2 linked regions of the Homo sapiens genome follow. The protein of the gene in region 2 interacts with the protein of the main gene of each other region in a biochemical or structural test. Each region holds a gene or a part of one and is shown on either strand. Other genes may lie near its edges.

Evidence for each region.
Region 1: the proteins of L1CAM (region 2) and EZR form a complex in vitro, tested with the Homo sapiens proteins (one study listed by BioGRID).

What each region holds. Positions count from the first base shown.
Region 1 is NC_000006.12:158,784,775-158,788,581, forward strand, and holds part of EZR (ezrin), read right to left. Parts: intron 2,430-3,807; coding exon 2,334-2,429; intron 810-2,333; coding exon 535-809; intron 1-534. UniProt on the Homo sapiens protein: Probably involved in connections of major cytoskeletal structures to the plasma membrane. In epithelial cells, required for the formation of microvilli and membrane ruffles on the apical pole. Along with PLEKHG6, required for normal macropinocytosis.
Region 2 is NC_000023.11:153,872,674-153,876,480, reverse strand, and holds part of L1CAM (neural cell adhesion molecule L1 isoform 1 precursor), read left to right. Parts: intron 1-466; exon of another isoform or gene 467-536; 5' UTR 537-644; coding exon 645-720; intron 721-3,238; coding exon 3,239-3,253; intron 3,254-3,783; coding exon 3,784-3,807. UniProt on the Homo sapiens protein: Neural cell adhesion molecule involved in the dynamics of cell adhesion and in the generation of transmembrane signals at tyrosine kinase receptors.

The sequences.
Region 1 (3,807 bases), on a different chromosome or scaffold from region 2:
GGCAAGGAAGGAGGCCCACTTACCACCCACATTCAAACCCTTACTTTCCATTCAAATCAATCAATCCCAAAGAGCTTTGGTTTCTATTTCCTGATGTGCAGCATTTCTATTTATGACAGTTAATCTGGAAGACTTAGCATTTTGAACAAGAACTCAGTTCTGCTGGAAAAACTAAGAGGTATTTTAAGTGGCCTCTTCTTCCAAATGGGGTAATTTTTGTGACCATTACTAAATAAAAACAGATTTCACAGGGGCAACCTATCATACCCCAGGAGGAGCTGAGCAGTCAGGTCGAGAAGTTTGCTATGCCATGTCCCACAGGACACGGCCACGCTTTAGTTTCCATGAGGAATGGCAGCTCGCCTTCCCTGGCTATGTTTCAGGTCGCTGGTCAGTGACTTAATGACTAGCATGAAGGAGCACTTGACACTGGCGAAGTCCTTGTGTTTTTAAACTGTGCTTCTAAGGCAATCACTTCTCCCTGCCGAGGACGGCATGACTGCTCCTGCCCAGGCCGGGTCATCCTGTGCTCACCTTTGAGGGATCAGCCGCTCAGAGCTGAGGTACCCAGACTTGTGCACTTCTTTGTTGTAGTCCCCAAACTTGGCCTGCACAGCGTAGGACCCCAAGAGCACGGCAGTCTCAGGGGGGCAGTAGATCTCATCGCTAAGGATTCCTTCCTTCACTTGGAGGAAGAAAAGTTTCTGGGTGATGTCCTGGATGAGCTCCTCAGCCACATCTTCAGGGTAGAACTTGGCCCGGAACTTGAACTGGAGGGGATTCTCCTTCCTGACCTCCTGGGCAGACACCTGCACGAAACAAGCCACACTCTCCACACAAATCCGGAAGACGAAGGCCCACTGTCCCCAACACAGGCTTCTAACCAAGACTCAATGGGGCCCTCAAGCCAGTTTTCAGGAGATATTTATTCTTAAAGTCATCTTTTTAGCACTCCAGACAAAAAAAGGTTAGTCAAAAGTGCTACCACAGGCCAGACATGGTGGCTCATGCCTATAATCCCAGTGCTTTGGGAGGCCAAGGCAGGAGGATCACTTGAGCCCAGGAGTTTAAGACCAGCCTGGGCAACGTAGAAGAGATCCCATCTCTACAACATTTTTTAAAAAAAAGTTAGCTGGGGATGGTGATGCATGCTTATAGTCCCAGTTACTCAAGAAGCTGAGCAGGAGGAACCCTGGAGCTCAGGAGTTCGAGACTGCAGTGAGCTATGATGGCGCCACTGCACTCCAGCCTGGGTGACAGAGCAAGACCCTGTCTCTTCTTAAAAAACAACAACAAACAAACAAAAACAAAAAAACAGGCCAGGCATGGTGGCTCACGACTGTAATCCCAGCACTTTGGGAGGCTGAGGTGGGCGGACCACGAGGTCAGGAGTTCGAGACTAGCCTGACCAACATGGTGAAACCCCATCTCTACTAAAAATACAAAAAAATTAGCCGGGCATGATGGCATGCAGCTGTAGTCCCAGCTACTTGGGAGGCTGAGGCAGGAGAATCACTTGAACCCAGGAGGTGGAGGTTGCAGTGAGCCAAGATCGTGCCACTGCACCCCAGCCTGGGCGACAGAGCAAGACTCCATCTCAAAACAACAACAACAAAAAACAAACAAGTACTATCACACTCTTGTGCTCAGCTGGAAATCAAAGCTACTGCCTCACTAAGCCCCAGTCCTCATGGGATGATGCTATCAATCCTGGAGAACTCAAATTTGGAAATGACCCCAGTGACCTGGAATGGGGCCACATGCCAATCGGGCCCTGGACCCCGAAACTTACTGTTAAGAATTCCTCCTGCTCCTCCACTCTTCCCCACCTCCCATCATCTTTTTAACTTGTTGCTGTGACTTGGGAGGACAGTGGGGGTTTCAAAAAAAAAAAAAAGGATAATTTTCAGAGTTTGAAGAAAATGTTTATCTTACTACTTTTCTTTTTGGTTGGTTAATGGAATTATCCACTCTTTAAAGTTGGAAGATAATCTGTCACAGGTTCAAACAAAGCAATAACAGGTTCTTACAAGATGGTGGATGATTCACAGTTTATAAGATTAACAATCTCATTGAAAAAACTAAGGTCAACTAAAAGCTATGCAATTAACCATCATATGCTCCAATGAGTGAGCACTATGGAGAAATGCCAGATCTGATTTCCAATCGATATCTCCATTTACTGGAAACCTGCAACCTTTTTGTCTGTAAAAACTTTTACACAAACAAAAAGGAACAGAAAACAAAAGACAGGGTGAGTTGCTCCAGTTTCCTTATCGATGAAGCAGACCAACACCCAATCCACAGCCTGTAAATAGTTAATCCTGACTTGCCTTCTTATCCAGCTTCAGCCAGGTAGGAAATCCTTTATTATCCACATAGTGGAGGCCAAAGTACCACACTTCCCGGAGGCCGATAGTCTTTACCACCTGCGTGAGAGAGAGAGAGGCTCAACACTCATGAGAAACTCACTCAAAAGGGCAACAGCTTTTGGCTGTCGTTCATCACATGGTCTAGCAGAGTCCCCAGGAAACCAGGACATCTGCTCAGTCCAACCACTGGGCAACATCTTTTTTTGCACTCAAATAACTTGTTACTAACTGAGGCTATTATCTCAAAGCCATGAACGACTTATTTTTAATATAAATTTGAGCAGATTCAGGGTTCTACCTTCAAATCTTAGAAAATCTCACTCCTACTCCTTTGTACTCCAGGATGCTCTCCTGCATGAAACTCAGCAGGGCGGGTTATGGCCAGCACACACAGAACCATGGGAGCCCACAGCCCCCCAGGGAACAGTGCGGTGGGTGCATCGCTGCCGGTCAGGTGTGCTCATGCAGAAGACTAAAGCATCCAGTGCCACACCTGAGCCTCCTCTGGCTGCCTGCCTCTGCCTCTCAGCCAGCTGGCCCAGGGGTCTGACTTACTAGGAACAGGGACAAAGAAATCCTAGGAAAGGCAGGAAAACAGGCAAGGCAGACTTCTGGGACGGAAGGGTGTCAATGCACAGGGGTGCCCAGAGGAACCTGCATCTTATAGACCTCCAGAAATGGGACATTCTGATACAGCAAAGGTAGAATCCCGACCCTAGGTCACAGCAAAGATTTCACATTTTCAAGCCTCTGTTGTGCATTACAGGAGTCCTGAGCTGCTTAGTCTCACGACTGTCTTGTAAACAGAAAAGCAGTGATAGTCGAACTTGCTGTGGACATTTGTTGAACATCATCTAAACCGAGTCCCAGACAAGTTCGACTATTTACATATACATAGATGTCTAATTTAAAATCCCATGATATATAATGTTAAACTTTAAAAAATGCTACCATCCTTCAAATACATGGCTTCTATCATATTTAATGCCAAAGAGGGTTGAATACATTAGAAATGACAACTCAGGTATACAGAGCATTTGCTTAAAGTAAATCCTAAAATTCCAAATTAACTCCTGATCTGGGCCTGTTTCTTCATCTGAAGGGTGCAGGGAGGCCAGAGGCTCCCTAAAGCTCTAGAAGTCTGTTTATTAAATGCCCAGGACTGACCTGTTCTTCCCCCTCTTCCCACTCACCCAAAAGGGATGGGGGAAGGCTGCAAGCTGAGCGTGGTGGCTCACACTTGTAATCCCAGCACTTTGGGAGGCCAAGACGGGTGGATCACTTGAGTTCAGGAGTTCGAGACTAGCCTGGCAAACATGGCGAAACCCTGTCTCTATTAAAAATACAAAAATTAGCAGGGCGTGGTAGCATGTGCCTGTAATCCCAACTATTCGGGGAGCTGATGCAGGAGAATTGCTTGAACCTGTGAGACAGA
Region 2 (3,807 bases):
AGATACATAAAGACATACAAGAAGACACACGTAGCTAGCAGACTTGTGTGTTGATTCCCTCAGGCACACACACTAACACACCCACTCATGAGTGCAACCCCTCCCAGAGAAGACACACCACAGAAATACCAGCTCACATACAGCTCACTCCCTGCTTGCAGATCCACAACCACACACATGCCCACGGACACCTGCACATGCAGACACATACGGGGATGTGCATGCCATGCACAGGGGAGCTGATGGGGCAACAAGTTGGTGCTGGGAAGGCAGCTGGCAGGAAAGGTGCAGACAGAGAGTAGAGAGGGAATAAAAGGCAACCTAGAGGCCCAGCCAGGGCTATCTCTTCCAGATTTCTCCCTCCAAGGTGGGGAGGGGTGCGGATGGGGAGGGGAGGGCTGGAGAAGCCGGCCAGCTGGGGGCGGGGCTGAGGGCGGGGCCAAGAGCCCGGGCTTACCCAGATGTTAGTCACTAACGTCCTTCCGTTCTCTCGTCTCTCTTCCCCCACCCTTCCCTTCCCTTCTCCCCTCTCCCAGTGCCCCCACTCCCAACTCCCGCCCCAAGCCGCCCACCAGCCCCCTTCCCCTCCGGCCGGAGCCTGAACCGAGCCCGGCTGGCTGTGCTGCGCGGTGCCGCCGGGAAAGATGGTCGTGGCGCTGCGGTACGTGTGGCCTCTCCTCCTCTGCAGCCCCTGCCTGCTTATCCAGATCCCCGAGGAATGTGAGTAGCTGAAGGGAGCCTGGGCGCCTACCTTCGCCGCTATGTTGGGCCCCTCTTTATCTTCTACCTCCTCACCTTCTCCCTGTTCCGGACCCTGACTCCTCTCCCTGGCCTTTCCTGGGCACAGGGTGGGCAGGAGATAGCCAGGACGTTGGGTACCCCCGGAGAGAAGGGCAGGGTAGAAGGTGCGGGGCGTGTCAGGACCATGGACAGGGACAGGCGCGGCCGCCGGGGCGATTTCAGCACCAGGGACAGCGAACCTGGAGCAGGGCCCCGAGGTCTTGGGCCTCCTCCATGCTCTCCTTAGCCCGCCCCATCTCTGCCCGCCCCACTCCGACTCCTCCGCTTCCATCCCCCACCACAGGGGTGTGGCAGCAGGAGAATGGGGTCGTCCCCAGCCCTCAGCTGGCTTGTGCAAAGGCCTGTGTTCAAGTCTTGTCCCCATTTCTCTTTCCCCTCCTGGGCCCTTGGTCACCCTGTCTCTGAACTGAGACAGGAAAAGGTGGCTTGAAAAACCCTGGTCCCAGCCCAGCAGCCTTCTGGACCCTTTTTTGTGTGTAGTTATTTGGTGGGGGTGGGGGCAGGGCTGCTGGAGCATGTGTCTATGGTTGTAACATTTGTTGGGGGCACAAGCAGGTGAGTGGATGTTGGGGAGTGTGGCCGTAGGGTTGTGATTAAGCATGGATACACTGTGTATGTCTGTGTGTTCTTGTGATTGACTGAGCGTAGATATTCGTGAATGTGATTTTGACTTCCTTACATGGGTGACTGTGTGAGTCACTCTGTTACTTACTGGCCAGGCTTGTGGAGGTCGGGAGGTATTTGACCACGACATTTGATTGCATTGGGTCATGTGTATGTGTGAGTGGGGCTGAATGTAAGTACACACTTGCGTGTGGGGGGTGTTACCGTGATGGTGTTTTCTCCTGTAAGTAGCTGTCAGGCCGTGTGAGGGGCATGTCACAGGGTATCATGTGTGAGGGCATTTGTGTCTCTTGAGCTACCAGGCTCCAGTCCCTTCCCAGCCTCACCTTGACACCTTTGTCTCTGGGCCTGGACAAGGAGGAGGCCAGTGTCACTGAGAGACGAGTTGGCGGATAGGGGTTGGGAAGACTGTCTGTGCCAGCAGTGGGACAGGGGCTGCGAGAGAGAGGCTGGGGAGGCACCTGGCGTTGGGAGGCAGTGAGGGCTTGGAGGAGGTAAAGGGGCTGGCCCCTTAGACACATACATGGAGGGCCAGGGCCAGGCAGACTCCCTTGGTACAGATGCACATGGACACATGCACACAGGTGCATGAAGACAAGGCAGGTGCAGGGATGAAGGAGCAGAGCCGCTGAGAGGCCACACAGGTGGAAACACACACCAGTGAGGCTTTTAGACCCAGAGGACACAGAGGTGGATACACAATATAACACTGTACAGTGGAATGCAAGCCGTGCATTCTCTACAGAAAGATGGGAGTGGGGAGAGAGAACTAGGCCAAAAGGCCATGGCAGCTCCAAGGCTGCCCTGGTCACTGACCAGCACTTGTTCTTGACCCTGATACGACACAGTGGGCAGTGGCAGGCAGCCGGCCCTCCCTGTTGGAACCTGTCTTCCATCTCTCCCTCCCCAGCCACTCCAGCCCCCTTTGTCTCTTTTCCTGCTTCCTCCACCTAGTTGGCTTTCTGCATCCTGTCATCCCTGTCACCATCTCCCTCCCCAGCTCAGGGCCCTCTGCAGTGTCCCCAGGGAGCCCCCTCCTCCCTCCCTGGACCTTCACACTGAGGTCTTCTGCAGAGACAAAGCTTTCAGAGGCAGCCTGCTGCTCCCTCCCTCCCTCTTCTCCCTTCCTCGAGGCCGCCCTGGCCAGTGCTCTGCAGAGTCCTGGGGCTGGGACAGCAGCTCTGGCCTCTGCCCCAGAGAGCTTGGTGGCTGTCTGGGAGGAAGGAGGGAGAAGAGGAGGGCTGGCGCCAACCCCGCAGGCTATGGAAACTCAGAGGCAGCAGGGCCTTTGGGATAGTTTTCAGGGGGAGGGGGCAGCAGGGCTCTGAAGGCTGGGCCCTGGTAATTGAAAACACTCAGCTGTGCTAATTGGATTAGGAGGGAAGCAGGCTGGAGCAGGGGACGGTGCCTTCCAAGGCATCCTGAATGGGTGGGGTCAGTTCTGCAGGCCCTGCCAGGCCCTGCCAGGGGGCTGCAAGGACACTCCTTGTTAAAGGCAAGAATTTCTCTCTCCCTGTCTGCTAGAGCTGGAGGCATGGCCTGGCTGCCTCTGGGCTACATGCCCTGTGTGTCTATCCAGTGGAGCTCCTCTCCCTGGGCATCTCTCTGTCCCATCTCCCTGGGCTTGACCTGCCACTGCTCCAGCCCAGCGTGTGCCCCCTTGTTGCCACTGCCAGGGCCTCCTCTCCTGCCATTCCCTCTCCACGGGGGGGCTGCAGGAGCTTACTATGTCCCCTGCCATCTGCCCCACTCTGGGGCTGCCTGTCAGTATTTCTCTCCATTCCCTCCCTTGCTGCCTGCCTGGATTTCTCAGATGAAGGACACCATGGTAAGTTGGGGAGGGGTGAGAGTGTTTCCCAGAAGGCCAAGGAGAAGGGTAAGGAGGCCCTCAGCTGAGCCTGCACCCCCGCCCTCCTGAGTGCCGGGGCCCTGCTCGGCTCTCCCTGAGCACCATGTGCTTCTCTCACCTGTGTGGGGCTGGCTTTGTTCTGTCTCTGCCCCAGCCTGGGTACTCTGTCACCCTCACTGTTCCTCTCTGCCATTCTCTCTGGTCCCTTCTCCCCTGTCTGGGGTTTGTCCTTCTTGGTTTCTGTGTCTTGGCTTTTGTTGCCCCCGCTTCTTTCTGTCATACCCTTTTTGTCTTTCTCAGGCATCTCTTTGTAACTTACGTGGCTGTCCCCTCTCTCCCTCTTTTCATGTCCCACAAGCCTCTTTTGTTCTTCCCCTCCGTTCGTCCCCCTGTGGCCATGGGGCCTCCAGGGGCTCTGGACCCTGCTTCCCTCACGATGGGACAGGTGCTGAGGCTATGACACCAGCCAGGCAGCACCCTCACCACCGCTCTCTCCACCCTGTCTTCAGTGATGGAGCCACCTGTCATCACGG